Linked DNA regions of Homo sapiens: all the other regions are linked to region 2. The links come from fine-mapping of genetic effects on gene expression. A gene starts in region 2. Each other region holds a variant in brackets. All regions are shown on one strand. Distances are between the middles of the regions.

Region 1 (5,481 bases), 54 kb after region 2:
ATTTTATACTGAATCTTGAAGGGCAGGGAAGGGGGAGCATTAAAAAAGAAGGACATGGATAGAAATACAGTATTTGAATATAAATTAAGCAGGAAAATATAGAAGAATCATCTATGCTTGGGAATTTGTAGCTGCTGTTTTTCTTTTCTTTTCTTTCTTTCTTTTTTTTTTAAGACAGAGTTTCGCTCCTGAGGCCCAGGCTGGAGTGCGATGGCCCCATCTTGGCTTACTGCAACCTCTGCCTCCCGGGTTCAAGTGATTCCCCTGCCTCAGCCTCTCAAGGAGCTGGGATTACAGGTGCACACCACCATGCCTGGTTAATTTTTGTATTTTTAGTTGAGACGGGGTTTCACCATGTTGACCAGGCTGGTCTCGAACTCATGACCCCAGGTGATCCACCCTCCTTGGCCTCCCAAAGTGTTGGGATTACAGGCATGAGCCACCACATCCAGCCGCTGCTGTTTTTCTTTAAAAATATTTTTTCACTTTATTTTTTCTGATGATAGCAACACAGGTTCACTGTAGAAAATTTGGAAAGCATAGAAAAGAGTAAAGATGGGAAAAATAGTCTATAATCTCAATAATGTGTTTTAAGTCTGTGCTTTCTTTTTTTTTTTTTTTTTTTTTTTTGAGACGGAGTCTCGCTCTGTCGCCCAGGTCGGACTGCGGACTGCAGTGGCGCAATCTCGGCTCACTGCAAGCTCCGCTTCCCGGGTTCACGCCATTCTCCTGCCTCAGCCTCCCGAGTAGCTGGGACTACAGGCGCCCGCCACCGCGCCCGGCTAATTTTTTGTATTTTTAGTAGAGACGGGGTTTCACCTTGTTAGCCAGGATGGTCTCGATCTCCTGACCTCATGATCCACCCGCCTCGGCCTCCCAAAGTGCTGGGATTACAGGCGTGAGCCACCGCGCCCGGCAAGTCTGTGCTTTCTTAAAGTGATTTAAAAACCATTGACTAAGTAGTGATTCTCATATCTGGTTATACATTTGAATCTGCTAGGGTGCTTTTTAAAAAATGCTGATGATTAGGCCGGGCGCACGCCTGTAATCCCAGCACTTTGGGAGGCCGAGGCGGGCAGATCACGAGGTCAGGAGATCGAGACCATCCTGGTTAACACGGTGAAACCCCGTCTCTACTAAAAATACAAAAACTTAGCCGGGCGTGGCAGCGTGCGCCTGTAGTCCCAGCTACTCTGAGGCAGGAGATCCCAGCTATTCTGAGGAGGCTGAGGCAGGAGAATGGCGTGAACCAGGAAGGCGGAGCTTGCAGTGAGCGGAGATGGCGCCACTGCACTCTAGCCTGGGCGACAGAGCGAGACTCATCTCAAAAAAAAAAAAATTGCTAATGATTGGAGGGACTAATATTATCCTCATTTCGCTAATGAGGAGAATGAGGCTCAGAGAATCCTTGCTGTGATAACCACAGGCAGCTACGGGAGAGAGTAGGAAAAGCAAGGTATTCCCAAGAAGCAGGCAACAGTACGGAACAAGATGTTGCTGTGGTAAGTGCCCAGCTACCAAGTTAAAACAAAACAAAACAAAACAAAAACAATGATGGTTGGACTCAACCCAAGCCCAGGTAAATCATCTCTGGAACATGGGACCCAGATGTTTCCATCCATCCATCCATCCATCCATCCATTCATTCATTCATTCTTTATCTGTATATTTATCTATCTTCAGGTGATTTTGATGACATGGGAGGGATAAAAATCACTGCATTGAAGTTGTTGGTTGACTAAAGTATTGATTTGATCAGTACACAAAATCAGGTATGAGTTTACTGATTTAATACAGCATATAATTGTACACTAGTTTGGGCAAAAGTGGTACATGAAAATCTTGACTTTATAGACTATTTGCAGAGAGGAAGGGGGAAGTGATATGCTGACCTTCATATGGTTATTTTCCTTTTTTGTAACAAATTTATTTCATATTTCCTTTAATAGGCTTTCTTAGTGTCCTTAAAATGTGATTTGCCTTAACTTTACTACCAATATATCAACAGATATATTGATACATGATATCATGATACAAAGATATACCTTTGAGCACTAATTTTTTTTTTTTTTTAGACAGAGTCTCGCTCTGTTGCCAGGTTGGAGTGCAGTGGTGCAATCTTGGCTCACTGCAACCTCCACCTCCTGGGTTCAAGCGATTCTTTGAGCACTAATTGACCTCACAATGTTGTACACGGTCTTCTGATGATAAGTAGAAATACTTTGGGAAGGTCCTTAACAACAGATAACAAAGAACATATTAATAGTGTTTTGTTTTGATTAATCTATGATGAGAACTACACAGTTCACAGTAGGATAATTTGAAGAATTGGCACAGAAAGAAATATGAAATGCAGGAATTGAGAGAACAATGCCATCATTTGGAGTATATCAGATGCAACCTTAAATATTAACTAGAATTGTGTTTATTTGTCTACTTTGGAAAACTAAGTGGTATCCAGAGACTTAGAGACCCCTGTGCATTTTGTTGTGGAAGGCAAGCTGTGTCAGTCCCTGTAGATATCTGCTCTACCTCTGTTACGCTACATGTGAGAAAACTGATGCTCAGGTTCTCTGTGTTATTCCTAGAAGTCTCAGAGTTGTGAAGAAGAAACCTTGCCTTCTCAGATTGCTCTTGTTTTGCACAATATCTCCGGCTTTGCATATAGGATCTTAAGGGGAACACAAAGAGGAATTTGAGACGGTTGTTGCTATAACTGAGTTTAGACCTTGTCGGGAGGAATTGGTGGACTCTATGTTAGAATATTCTTGAGGGATCATTAGGAAATGTTAGGTTGATGCTAAGTCAAGGTTGTCTTTGGAGTAGCATTACCTCTTTTAAGTCTCTCAACAAGACTATTTTACAGATGAAACTCACAGAAATCACAATTTGCCACAAGTCACATTGTTAGATTATGGAGTTCAAACCTAGGTTTGTCAGACTCTCAAATCCAGGGTTTTTCCACTATTGTGACACAGCAATGCATTACACAAACTTGTTTCTTTTAAAGCTGCTGAGGGGGTGGGTTTGTGTTTTAAAAGAGCTGTAACACCCT[T/C]TCTTCAAAGGCTACTAGAGAACTTCTAGAGACACAGTGTGAGTTGCCCTTAGGCTGAGTGTGGGGAGGGGGCTGAGGAACTAGGGGTGAGGGCTAAGAGTTGGTGTCCACTGGAGTGGTCCCTGGGAGCTTGTTAAAAATGCAGACTCTCAGCCCCACCAGGGAACTTCTGAGCCAGAATCTGCATTTTAACAAGGTCCTCAGATGATTAAGTATGAGCAGCATTGCTTTAGGAGACCACCGGGCTTGGGTATTAGTCCTCTGGAGTGAGGAATTTGTCCTATTCTCCAAGGAGCACATGGAAAAAGGATGGGTGTGAGGGAGAAGAGAACTGTTTTTCATCATACAAAGCATTGAGAGGTTGGAAACTTGTGTGTAAGGAGCACAGCTGATGACCAAGACCCCCAGCAGTATCCTGATACTCAGATTCCCAAGGAGGAAACATGAGGGCTATGAATTGGCAGGTAATTTTCTTTGTACAATGGGCTTAAAAATTTGAATCTCTGTGTCTAAAACATATGAAGATATAGTCAAGGATATACGTAATACCCTGATCTATAATAGCAAGGACTAGGGGAGCCCTCTGATTAAGGGATTCTGAGCAAAACCCATAGCCAGGCTTCAGGACACTTATGAAATTTTTGCAAACATTATGCTAGATACTCTATGTAGATATGCATGTACATTTGTGCATCCTCTTCCTTTGAACAAAGTCCTTAGCTTTCATTATATTTCAGAATAATCTGTTATTCCTTACCCTTTTTGTGAATTATAAACCTCTGAGTAAAACCACTCTCCTTTTATAGATGAGAAGGTAAGTGACTGGTACATATTGATAGCAACCAGCTAGTGGCAAAGTTAATTCTAAGGTAAAAGTTTTTTCTGTCAACACTTTAAATATGTCATGCTACTCTCTCCTGGCTTGTAAGGTTCCCACTGAAAAGTCTGCTGCAAGACGTATTGGCGCTGCATTGTATGTTCTTTTCTTTTTTTTTTTTTTATTCTTTTTTTTCTCTTGCTGCTTTTAGGATCCTTTCTTCATCCTTGACCTTTGGGAGTTTGATTATTAAATGCTTTGAGATAGTCTTATTTGGGTTAAATCTGCTTTGTGTTCCTTAACCTTCTTGTACTTGAATGTTGATATCTTTTCCTAGGTTTAGGAATTTCTCTGATATTATCTCTTTGAATAAACTTTCTACTTCTGTCTCTCTACTTCCTCTTTAAGGCCAATAACTTTTAGATTTGCCCTTTTGAGGCTATTTTTTAGATCCTATAGGTGTGCTTCATTGCTTGTTATTCTTTTTTCTGTTTTTCTCCTCTGACTATGTGTTTTCAAATAGCCTGTCTTTAAGCTCACTAATCCTTTCTTCTGCTTGATCAATTCTGCTATTAAAAGATTCTTCATCACGTCAACTGTATTTTTCAACTCTAGAATTTCTGCTGGTTCTTTTTAATTATTTCAACCTTCTTTTAAAGTATATCTGATAGAATTCTGAGTTCCTTCTCTGTGTTATCTTGAATTTCTCTGACTTTTCCTCAAAACAGCCATTTTGAATTCTCTATGTGAAAGGTCATATATCTCTGTTTCTCCAGAATTGGTCCCTGGTGGCTTATTTAGTTTATTTGGTAAGGTCATGTTTTCTTGGATGATGCTGATGCTGGTAGATGTTCTTTGGTGTTTGGGCATTGAAGAGTTAGGTGTTTATTGTAGTCTTCACGGTCTAAACTTGTTTGTGCCTGTTCTTCTTGGAAAGACTTTCAGGTATTAAAAGAGACTTGGGTCCCAAGTCCAATAATGCTGTGTTTTTTTCAGACTCGTAGAGTTATCACCTTGGTGGTCTTAGATAAGATCTGGAAGAATTTTCTAGATTACCAGGCAGACTCCTGTTCTTTTTCCCTTACTTTTCCCAAACATATAGAGTCTCTCTTTTTCTTTGCTGAGCCACTGGGGAGCTGGGAGGGTGGTGATGCAAGCACCCCTGTAATCACAACCACTGGGACTGTGCTGGGTGAGACCTGAAGCCAGCATGGCACTGACTGGGACTTGCCCTAGGCCCTTCCCTTCAGGATGGCAAGATCCCCCCCGGCCCCAGGCATGTCCAGCGATGCTGTCTGGGAGCCAGGGATTGAAGTAAAAAACTTTAGCAATTTACCTGATGTTCTATTCTACAGCGGCTAAGCTGGCACTCAGGCCACAATACAAAGTTCTTCCTGCTCTTCCCTCCCCTTTCCACAGGCAGAGGAGCCTTTCTCTGTGGCCACCCGCTACCACTGGTCCATGGGGGCTTTCTGCTAGGCCCCTGTCTGTGTTCACTTAAAGTCCAAGGGCTCTTCCATCAGCAGTGGTGAATGCTGACAGGCCTGGGACCCACCCTTCAAGGCAGTGGACTCCCTTCTGGCCCAGGGCGGGTCTGGAAATGCTGTCC
Region 2 (5,481 bases):
CTTGGAAAAGTGGTAAATCCTTACTAAAAGATCATAGCTTGCATGACCAAGAGATCCTCTAGAAAAGGTACTTTACTACCATGTAGGATGTTTGTCTTACCTGCCCAAAGAAGTTTTAATGAAGATCTCATTTTCTCCAGTTCCCCTTTAACCAGTGAAAGAGGAGGGTATTATTTGTTTTGTTTTTCTATTTATTCTTTGGTAACCATGGAAGAGTTTGTGTAACCTAGAGAGGCTGCTTATTACCCACTGTCTAATCCCTTTGTTATTATTCCATACTCTGATTGTCACAAGCAGGAAAAATAGTTCTGTCCTGCTTCTAAAAACTTAGCAATGTAACACATTTTCTTGTTTTTAGTGATTTTCTCCAATTAATTAATTAATTGTTTTAGTGATTTTTCTCAGATAAATAATGTTAAAACGACTTGGAGAGAAAAGCTACATTAAAAGATTATGGATGTATAAATGTCCTAAACATTTAAGAACATGCATAATTATGATTCATACCAACTTCAGAATTATTACCTTTGGGAAGGGGTGGGGGTAACGAGTCAGGAGTTGGGGTTTAGCTATATCTGTAATGCTTTATTTAAAAAAGAAGGGCTGGGGGGAGCAGGAGTATTACATGGTATATATCCTGTTTTTGGTAGGTTTGAAATATCACACAATTTAAAAATTTAAAAGTTTACAAAATTATGGGAGTTGATTAAAACTATCAAAATAAAGAATGCATAGCAAACAAGTGCTCTTATTATGAACTTTGTGTCTGAGTTTATTTCAACATGTGCATCTGCATTTTTTCAGACTCAAGAAAGACAAACACCGGAGGTTAGGGGGTGAACTGCTGCTGTTGAGGGATTATCTTGGTGGTTTTTTTTTTTTTTTTTTTTTTTTTGGCTTTTCTATTCACCATGGAGGTTACCAGCAAAACAAATCTCCAACAAGCTTGTTTACAAAATATAAAGCAGTTTGGAGGCAGAGGGTTAATGACTTAATTTCTTATAAATTGAGGCTTGTGTATGGGCATGCAAAAAAACAAAAACAAAAACAAGTAAATTTGGGGAGGTTTCTTTCTATAGAGGCAAAGGACCTTACCTACATTTTTTCCAAATTGATTTCTTCCTGGTACTATTGGCAGGAAGAAATTCAAGTGGGTATTCTGGTGGCTTTTTTCTTTTTTCTGAGAGTCTAGGATTGTTTTCAGGACAAAGTTTCTTCTTGCCCATGGTGCTTTGCTGTGACATTGTAATTGCCTCTGTTGAATTGAATAATACAAATGGGTTGTTTCTATGGTATCGGCTAAGTGGGATGAAAAGGTGAAACCCTAGATCTTGCGCTGAGAGGTCACAGTGCTACCACCCTCCACACTGTCTGTCAAAGAGAACAGGCAGCCAAGGCCCTGAGCTCCAATCTCAGGCACTCATTTGTAACTTACTCGTTTGTAACTTCCTGGGCAAATTCACGCATGAAAAAAGAAAATGACTTTAGTTTATGTTGTCACTAAGCCCAGAAAATCCCTGCCAACCCCATGCTGCCAGCTTTCCTAGGACATTCTTATTGGAGGATTATTTTAAACTGAAAGGTGAGTGAAGAGCTGCGTCCCCACTCCTTCCCAGCCAGGCTTTGAACTAACAATAGGGCAGGTTGAATGAAGGCTGATAAATGTAAATCCTGGAATCCAGAAGCCGGATCACACCGCGGCCGTCTAGGCCAGCGGCGGTTCCAGCATCCGCCCCAAGCTGGTCACTCATCCTTTCAGTGCATTCAGTAGATTTCATCGTTTCATCAACACTTGAGTGCCTGCTTCGTGCAAGCTTTCCTCTGCCACCGCCGCCTTCTTACTCCCGGCAGGTTGCCCGCTTGAGTCAACCAGCCACTAAACGGATCTAAGTGAATAAGTGGCCTGTTAATGCCAAGGAGTAGCATTTCCAAATGAAGAGACTGGGGGTAAATAAAAGCAAAGTGTTACCATTTACACGCTCTCAATTTTAGTTGCACTTCACTCAGAGTAGATCTCTTTAATTTGCGGCATCGACAGATGCTATATTCTTAGAAATTTTTTTTTTTTAAAGGAGGTAAGACGGGCGTTTGAGAACACTTTTTACTTTGGTGCAAGTTGCACGCAGTTCCCATTCACTCAGAGTAGATCTCTTTAATTTGCGGCATCGACAGATGCTATATTCTTAGAAATTTTTTTTTTTTAAAGGAGGTAAGACGGACGTTTGAGAACACTTTTCACTTTGGTGCAAGTTGCACGCAGTTCCCATTCCCTGCGCCCTTCACTTCCAACTTTGTTTCTCCAACTCCTTTACCCCCCACCACCGAGGCCCTCTGGCTACAGCCCCGAGGGGTTACCCTGGGTTTCGAAACTTTTGAAACTTGCGGGGGAGTAAAAGTACTTCATTCCCAGTGCTTCTGGCCCTTGCCAAGCGGGGAGCCCCGCAGGAGAGTGTAAGCCAAGGGTTCCAGGTGCAGCCTTGGGGTTCCACGTGCAGCCCTAGGGTTCCGTACACCCATCCCGCCCGGGCCAGAGGAGGCAGCAGGCGCTCCAGTCCGCTCTCCGCAACTCCAGTTCCTGATTTCCTCGGAAGCTGCGGGGCCGAGAGGGAGGGGGGCTCCTGTGTGAGCGTGAGGATTTGAATGAGAAAGCAGGTTGTGGCGGCGGCGCCCTGCTCTTCCCCGCTCGTCTGGGGCTTCTGCTGGCTAGTGGGGAGAAGTGCTCTTCTAGGGGGGCTTTTCTGGCCCTTGGCAGGGGTTTGGAGTTGGAGTCACAGGGGCCAATAACTCATCACCCCAGCACTTCGGAGGTGGCTCCTTGTGCCACGGACTCCGAGGAGTCCTTCAGCTACTGAACACTCAAAGCTGAGGAGGTCAGTGCTTTCGGGGGAAGAAGGGGCCCAGGAGAGAAGGGGGTGTGCAGGAAAAAGAGAACTGGTACGCCAGTCCGATGAGCGAGTGAGCAGGTGGCCCAAGTTCCTTTCTCGGCAGCCACAGCCGGCACACGCCTGTTTAGGACTGTGAGTGCTGTGCGTGGGGATCCCCTAAGGCCCCGTGCGGGGAACTGGCCACGGCCGCTCTTCAGGGTCCCATAATTCAGAAGGATGAGGGTGGGTGTGTGTGTCCGCGAAATAATGTAACTCTCGGGTCCCTTGCGGTGGTGGTGGGTGGCGTTTCGCCCGGTGGAAGGTCCAGCCTCGCTGCAGGATGCTTCACCCTCACGCGGGGTCCCGGGACCCTCTCTCTGACCGCCAGACGCCGCCAGGAGAGCAGGTCCGCGTTTCCCAGCAAGGGGAGTGCAGCGTCCGTTACACTTGGGGAGTCTCACAGCTTTTCCTGCGCCCGGTGACCCTGCTCAGGACCTCTTAGAGACTAGGTGTGCTCAGCGCGAGGAGGATATACTCCATTGCCCTTTCCTGGGAAGAACCAAGAGCGCCCGAGCGGCGCGGGGTGGTGGAGGCAAACCCCGGCCCCGCGGCGGCACGCTCTGCGCCTGCGCGGCGTTTCCTTGGCGACTGAGCTGCGGGTCCGAGACGCCACCCCGCGAGCCCCTAAACCCAGTTCCCTGTTGAGCGTCTGCGACGCCCTCTCCCCTCCTTCCCGAGGCTTTTTCTATTTGTTTCCTTCTGCGAATCAATTTGTGATCACATTTTGACGTTGAGAGTTCAGCATTAAAGCAATAACCAACTAAATTAAAAAAAAAAACCCAACTTTTCCCTTCCCTTGTTACCGTTTTGATCACGGACAGAAGAAAATGGTGAGAGATTAGTTATTAGGGCAGCAATTGAAATCCCCCTCTGTCCCGAAAAGGGGAGACGAATAAAACATTTACTTCCTGGTAAGGAGTTAGAAAATTCAGTGAAGTGATTGTTCTCGAGCGTTACAAGAACAAATCTGTGCCTCCTAACCCAGGTGAAGAGCAGAGCTTGTACAACCCAGCAGCACCCATGTCCTGTTTATTGGCATGTTTATGACAAGGAGATGCTCTGCAAAAGGGACCAGAGTATAATGCCAATGAAAAGAAACAAAGGATTTCCCAGAAGAGGCGGTAGTTTTTTTCAGTTGCCTCAGCGTTTTGGTCACCTTTGGGGTTAAAGTCTTCTGCAGAGAATGCTTCAAGAAGCCTTAACAGAAGCCAGTTTTCTCAAGCTGGTCATTTTCTTTTTCTTTTTTTCTTTTTTGAGACGGAGTCTGGCTCTGTCGCCCAGGCTGGAGTGCAGTGGTGCGATCTCGGCTCACTGCAACCTCCGCCTCCTGGGTTCAAGCTATTCTCTTGCCTCAGCCTCCCGAGTATCTGGGATTACAGGCTCCCGCCACCACGCCCAGCTATTTTTTGTATTTTTAGTAGAGACGGGGTTTCACCATATTGGCCAGGCTGGTCTGGAACTCCTGACCTCAGGTGATCCACCCACCTCTGCCTCCCAAAGTGTGGGGATCACAGGCGTGAGCCACCGCGCCCAGCAGATGAGAATCATTTTCATTTTCATAAAATTGTGAATCTTGACAGCCCTATCCCCTCTTTTAAAATCCGTTTGTTTACATACAGCCTAGCATTTGGCAAAAGTACACATCTTAAGGGGTATGTAGAAGGAGCGGTAGCTTCTTGCTTATTTTTCTTAAACTGCATCAATATTTGGCAGCATGATTGGTACCTAGTTGCTATTTAACATTGGTTAGAATTAACATAAATGCTAATACAAATTTAAAATGGAGTTATTCTTCTTGGGATAAAGTGTGGCATAAAATACCTTGGATGAAGTAATACGTGAGTACTGTCTCGCTACATACCAGTTTCAAGCAATTTGTTTTCAAGAATAGCAAGTGTTTATTTGTGGTAGATGTTTTAAGATAATATCCTCCCACCATCAGCAAATGAAATCAAACATACCACTTTTCAAATGATTAGCGAGTAACATGCTGTTAAAGTTGTCTCCCATCTCATTTGTCATAAATTCTTAACATTGTGCAATCCATCTAGCTCAAATGTTTAAAAATAAGTCCAACTGAGTTTTTCCCCTTTTCTCATGTTTAGCAAAATAGAAAAACTCTTAATTTTCAGGTTCAGATACTTTGTGACCCTATTTGGTGGCTTGTAACTGGCTCCAATTCCCTAATTCTCAGTGACATGTGTTTCTGCTGGTTCCAGGAGGTAAACTGCAGTTTTAACAGATCATGGGATAATGAGACTGGGAGTACCTGGGGGAGGCTGGGGAGAGGCAATGGGAAGGAGACAAAGAGAGGGAAGGTTGATGGGCAGAGCGAGGATTTATAGTGGCACCAGATTTGCAATAAAATCTGTTTAAAGTTATTGCTTCCGTTTGATATATTTTCCCACATCATCAACTTCAATTAAATTTATTTTAAAAATCAGTCTTTCAGATATAGGGCTAGTATTATAAACATAGAATATGATAAAAGTGCTCCTTGTTAGGGTGCCATAATGTAAAATACTGTGAAAATTCTTAACGAAATGTTTTTTACTTA
Region 3 (5,481 bases), 190 kb after region 2:
CCAGAAATATTAATAAACACCAGAGACTTTGGGTTGTTGATATAAAGTTCTGTTTTTGGCAGTTGACTGTTGGGATGGCCCAGATGGAGAGCCAGTAGTACATCATGGTTACACTCTCACTTCAAAAATTCTCTTCAGAGATGTTGTGGAGACCATCAACAAGCATGCCTTTGTGAAGAATGAGTAAGTAAAGCAGCACCTGTGAGCTAAGCGGTAGCCTCCCGCATGGAGCATTGCCTGATGTAACGTAGCTACAAAACCACATCCTCTTCCTTGGACTCTACACTGCCCTCTTTGCTAGACTAGTTTTCTCCCTCCTTCTCAGCAAAACATTGTGAACAAATAATGTGGCCTTCCCGTTTGTACTTTCTCATGCTGCATTTATTCCTTGTCCCATTCTTTCTCAATATGCCTCCTTAAAGACATTCTTGCAAATAGTGACCTCTAAATTTCTAAATCCAGGGTGTAGAGTGTCCATAAAATCTGGAAACATAGGTTACTGTGTACATAATTAGTGGGTTCTGATCATGATGGATGTCTTATCTATACACTGAGGTGTCTGGAGTCCTTATGTTACTTGACCCTCTCCTTGTCATTTGACAGTGTTGAATATTTCCTCCCCACTACTTGCCTTTTTTGGTTTCCATTATATCATTCTCCCCTCCATTGCTCTCGTTGCTTCTCAATCTCTTTTTTTTGTACTGCAGTCTTCTGTTAATCTATTTCCTCATTCCTCTAATGGTTAACTGTTTTCTAAGGTTTTGCCCTAGATCACTTTCTGGATATTTATCAAATTCTATGTCCAGAACTTTCCCCTCAAGTTCTAGGCCCATGTTGAAACATACTCAGTGAGGCCGGGCACGGTGGCTCCTGTAGCACTTTGGGAGGCTGAGGAGGGTGGATCACGTGAGGCCAGGAGTTTGAGACCAGCCTGGTCAACATGGCGAAGCCCTGTCTCTACTAAAAAAATACAAGTATTAGGTGGATGTAGTGGTACACATCTGTAATCCCAGCTACTTGGGAGGCTGAGGCATGAGATTTGCTTGAACCCAGAAGGTGGAGGTTGTAGTGAGCTGAGATTGCACCACTGCACTCCAGCCTGGGTGACAGAGTGAGACTCCATCTCAGAAAAATAAAAATAAAAATAAAAATCCTCAGTGAATATTCATCTGAGTATCCCATAGGTGTGGGGAGCCACAACAGTGAGCAGAAGATAAGACTCCTGCCATTAAGGAGCTTACTCCCCAAGGGGAACTCAGCATCTCATTCTGCCAAACTTCCTCTTGATTCTCGCTCCATTTCCTCTTATTAATAGTTAGGGGCAGCACTGGCCTCAGCCAGAAACTGGGAGTCATTCTAGACTCAACCAATTCTTGGCAATTCTACTTCCCAAGTTATCTTTTGACTCCATTGCCTCCTGTTCATTTTTATTTCCCCTTTGGTTCATCCTCAACACTGGTGCTATAATTTTCTTTCTGAAATATGAGCATGGTGATTCAATTCTTGTCTTAAAGCCTGTCAGAAGCTCTCTCAATACACAGGCATGTCTTCATATCCCTTAAGGTCTGGCATCTCCCTTGTCTTCCACTATCATCTTCCACCATTATTCCACAGAGATTTAGGATTCTGCCTTCAATGACTGTCTTTCAGCTTCCCTATTGAGCCTGGCTCTTTCTCAACTCCCCACTCTTACGTATGCTGTTCTCTCTGCCTGGAACAACCTTCCCCGTTAGTCTATCTGATTAATTGTTGCTTATTCTACAAGGCCGTTTAAGTATTGTCCCTCCAACAAGTTACTAATACCACCAGCTGATTTAAATCTTCTTTTTCTCCATATTTTCTCTGTATTTAGCACCCTGCACATATTTCTGTCATATCATATAGCACCCTCTTGCAATTGGTTGGTTACTTGCCTTCTTTTACATCTGTAAGACTGTGAACTCACTGAAAATATGAGCAATCTCTTATTATTTTGTATTCATTTTTGTTGCCTAGCAGGTACCTTCAGTATACCAGCTATTCAAGAAAGGATTTTTGAATTAAAGGAAACAAATTAAAATTACAATTGTGTAAAATTAATTTTTTAGAAGTTAGTAGCCTTTAAAATTTCCAATATTTGGTCTTCTCATTAATTAAACATGAGGTTAAAAATGCTTTTCTAATAAGACACACTTGCTGTATAGCAGATTTAGTTTATGATGCCTCCCACGTGGAAGAATCTTGAACACTGCATTCTAATGGGTCTTTACAACCCTGATTTCTACAGGTCCTAGCCAAATGGGTGAAGTAATTTTGCCTTTATTTCCCAATGTATGAAGTAGGGTGTTGAGAAGGCCTGCCACCTATGTATCTTGGAAGATCCTCTGGTGATTTGACAATTTACTTCAAGTTTGGGAACTCTTAGAAGAAAAGCACTTCAAATTAAAAGAGTTAATAAACTTGTTTAGTACATTTTAAAAGTTCAGCCTTTTCCTCTCCTTTCTTAACTTTGGTTGCATCTTTATATCAGGGTTTCTCAACCTTGGCACTAATGACATTGTGTACTGATAATTTTTTTTTTTTTTTTTTTTTTTTGGTAGAGAGCTGTCCTGTGCAGC[G/A]TAGGGTGGAAAGCAACATCCTCAGCTTCTATTCATTATGTGCCAATAGCACCCCTGAAGTGTGACCACCAAAAATGTCTTCAGATATTGACAAGCGTCTCCTGTACTGGGGGGAATAATTGCCTCGTTCCCTGTTGAGAAGCACAGCTTTACACTAAACATCATCAAGCACTAATTAGGCTTTTTTTTTTTTTTTTTTTTTTTTTTTTTTTTTTTTCTGAGGCAGCCTTGCTCTGTCGCCCATGCTGGAGTGCAGTGGCATGATCTCAGCTCACTGCAACCTCCGCCTCCTGGGTTCAAGCGATTCTCTTGCCTCAGCCTCCTGAGTATCTGGGATTACCGGCACGTGCCACAATGCCTGGCTAATTTTTGTATTTTTAGTAGAGACAGTGTTTCACTATATTGCCCAGGCTGGTCTCGAACTCCTGGCCTCAAGTGATCTGCCTGCTTCGGCCTCCCAAAGTGCTGGGATTACAGGCATGAGCCACCACTCCCTGCCACTAATAGATTTTTTGTAAATGAATTGACAATGTGAAAATTCCTTGTTAAAACTCCCTGATGTGACTGCAGGACAACTCAGGGTTGTCAGTTTGTTGTTGCTGTTGCTTTTCCCTCTTCTAGCACTTTAGGGTAAAACCTATGTGAAGAAATGAATAGCAAACAGATTGTAGTCGAGTAAGGAAACCTACCTCAGCCACAAAGGCTCATCTGTAAGATGGCCCACAGCATCAGGTTTTACTAATGAGGAGAGAAGGTAGGTCTGGCGGTCATAGCCCGTATTGTGGAACTTGTGCTTGTCATGAAAGCCTGGAAAAAGTTTTTCTGCACATTGATATATTAGGTGATTTAAATATTGGTATATGTTGATATATTAGGTGATTTAAATATATTGCCTATTATGTCTGAAGACATGTAACGGAAAACTAGAAAAAAGTCAATGAACCTGAATTTGAAATAATTTCTTATTCTGAGGAAAAAATAAGGTTGAGAGAGGAGTAAAATCATGTAATCAGCCCTGATCTCCTTTCTGCCTTAGCCACCAACTCCTTTAGGTAATTATTTACATGGATCTCATGTTTTCTGTGCAGAAACCTGAGTGCTGGTGTAGAATGAATGCTTGGCTGGTTTTTATTTTTATTTTTTGACAAAGACTAGTATATAATTCTATCAAAGTGATTTTGAAATGTGCGACGTAGGATGCTATAAAACACAGAATTCCCTTATGTTATTTTATCCTCAATCATAATTTTCAAGGTGGGGGTTAATTATATATTTTAGAGTCAATAGCTTCATTTAATGACATTCAGTGGTCTCTTAGAAGCTGTTAGACTTTTGAATAAATAAGACAAAATTACATTATATGAGTTTACTTTCTTTAGACTTCTCATCTCTTTTAAAATTTTCTCTTCTTTTAAAAGAAACATAATATATCTACCATTGTTTCCTGATGCAAAATATTAGAAAAGCCATCCCATGTGGATTGGTATTTTGTTCATCCATTATGCTTAGCAAAGTATATTTGCTCAGAGGAATTTTTTAAATGCATTTCTAATCTTTCTCATTTTAGAAGCATTTTAACCATCATCAGTATCGCAAATACTGTCACTAGGATTGTAACAACACAGTGAATACTGAATCATTTTCAAAAGTCCCTGTGAGTTGCCTGCACCTGACGCCTCTGGACTGTGTTGCTCTTTTCTCAGGTTTCCTGTTATATTGTCTATCGAGAATCACTGCAGTATCCAGCAGCAAAGGAAGATTGCTCAGTACCTGAAAGGAATATTCGGAGACAAACTGGACCTGTCATCTGTTGATACAGGGGAGTGCAAGCAGCTTCCAAGCCCTCAAAGTTTGAAAGGCAAAATTCTAGTGAAGGTAATTACTTCAAGTAATGCAATAAAAGACATTCATTATCAGCTAAGCCTGCCCTCCCTTAAAGAATAAAAATGGGTTTCAAGGGAGAATAATAATTAGAATCAATATATGAAGGATTGTCTAGATCTATGTATGCGCCTTATTCCAATTTTTTTATAGTCGTGTCTTCAGAAGAAGCTTATTGTTGAGTGAGCACATATTCTGAGATTTGTACTTATGAAGTGGAAACATCAATACTGTAAGCCAAATGTTTGATATTTTAGTCTGTAATAGTTCACACTAGAGAGAAATGTGTGTGTAGGAGCGTGAGGTTCAGGAAAGGAGAAGGCTCCTTGTATCCATATCTGAAAGCAGTTCTTTCAGACTTTTTCTCCCATTTCAAGCTCCAATAACTGTCTGTCAAAAAAACCAAAAAAAACAAAAAGCTTCATGGTTGATCAGTCTTGGTTATGCAAGTGAGAAGAGCTCACTTCAAAGAGGAACACAGGCACAGACATAATAATGCCCCACAGGACTCATGTACGTGTGAAAGAGCAGTAGGTGAACAGAATGACATTTCATAAACAGATTTTCTGAGAGAGGAAGCTTACTACAATAAATATTATTCATGCAAAGAATAGCCAGAAAGACAGTTCTTTCAGTTTTCAGATCACTGACTTTGTGGTTTTACTTATTTCCAGTGAATTTTGTGTGTTTGTACTAAAACCACCTTGGGTGGCCACATCATTTTGTGATTAAAAATGTAAAGGAAAGCAATAGGGTATTAAAATTCAAACTGGGTTATATTTTACTTAAAAGAGGTGTGTATGAAAAAACAAATATATAGGAGGAGCAGGAAAGTCAAGGAGGCAATGTAATTTCATGGCAGGACTTCAACTGGGGCTTTAAGGGAGAGCAGCACATGGAAAAGATGGAACATATTCATTCTTAGAATTGGTCAAAACCTGTTTTCTACCAATTAAATAAAATTATAGATTCTGAATACATCAAAAAGGTGTTGCTAGGCATT

The links. PIP is the estimated chance that this variant, and not a neighbour inherited with it, causes the effect. A credible set is the group of variants that fine-mapping cannot tell apart.
Region 1: its variant is the best candidate, but not a certain one, in a credible set for the expression of PLCH1 in prefrontal cortex (CommonMind, PIP 0.70).
Region 3: its variant is the best candidate, but not a certain one, in a credible set for the expression of PLCH1 in cerebellum (GTEx, PIP 0.72).

The regions. Positions count from the first base shown.
Region 1 is chr3:155,688,621-155,694,101 of GRCh38, reverse strand. All of the region lies in intron 2 of PLCH1 (phospholipase C eta 1), which reads left to right. Among named protein-coding and RNA genes, the nearest start is that of PLCH1, 54 kb to the left of the region's middle. The variant T/C (reference allele first, on the strand shown) is at 3,056.
Region 2 is chr3:155,742,229-155,747,709 of GRCh38, reverse strand. PLCH1 (phospholipase C eta 1) reads left to right here and starts at 2,639. Exons shown (of 23, transcript NM_014996.4): 1 at 2,639-2,870. RefSeq lists enhancers at 2,677-2,886, 2,781-3,402.
Region 3 is chr3:155,548,778-155,554,258 of GRCh38, reverse strand. PLCH1 (phospholipase C eta 1) reads left to right here. Exons shown (of 23, transcript NM_014996.4): 9 at 63-183; 10 at 4,301-4,472. Among named protein-coding and RNA genes, the nearest start is that of PLCH1-AS2, 66 kb to the right of the region's middle. The variant G/A (reference allele first, on the strand shown) is at 2,598.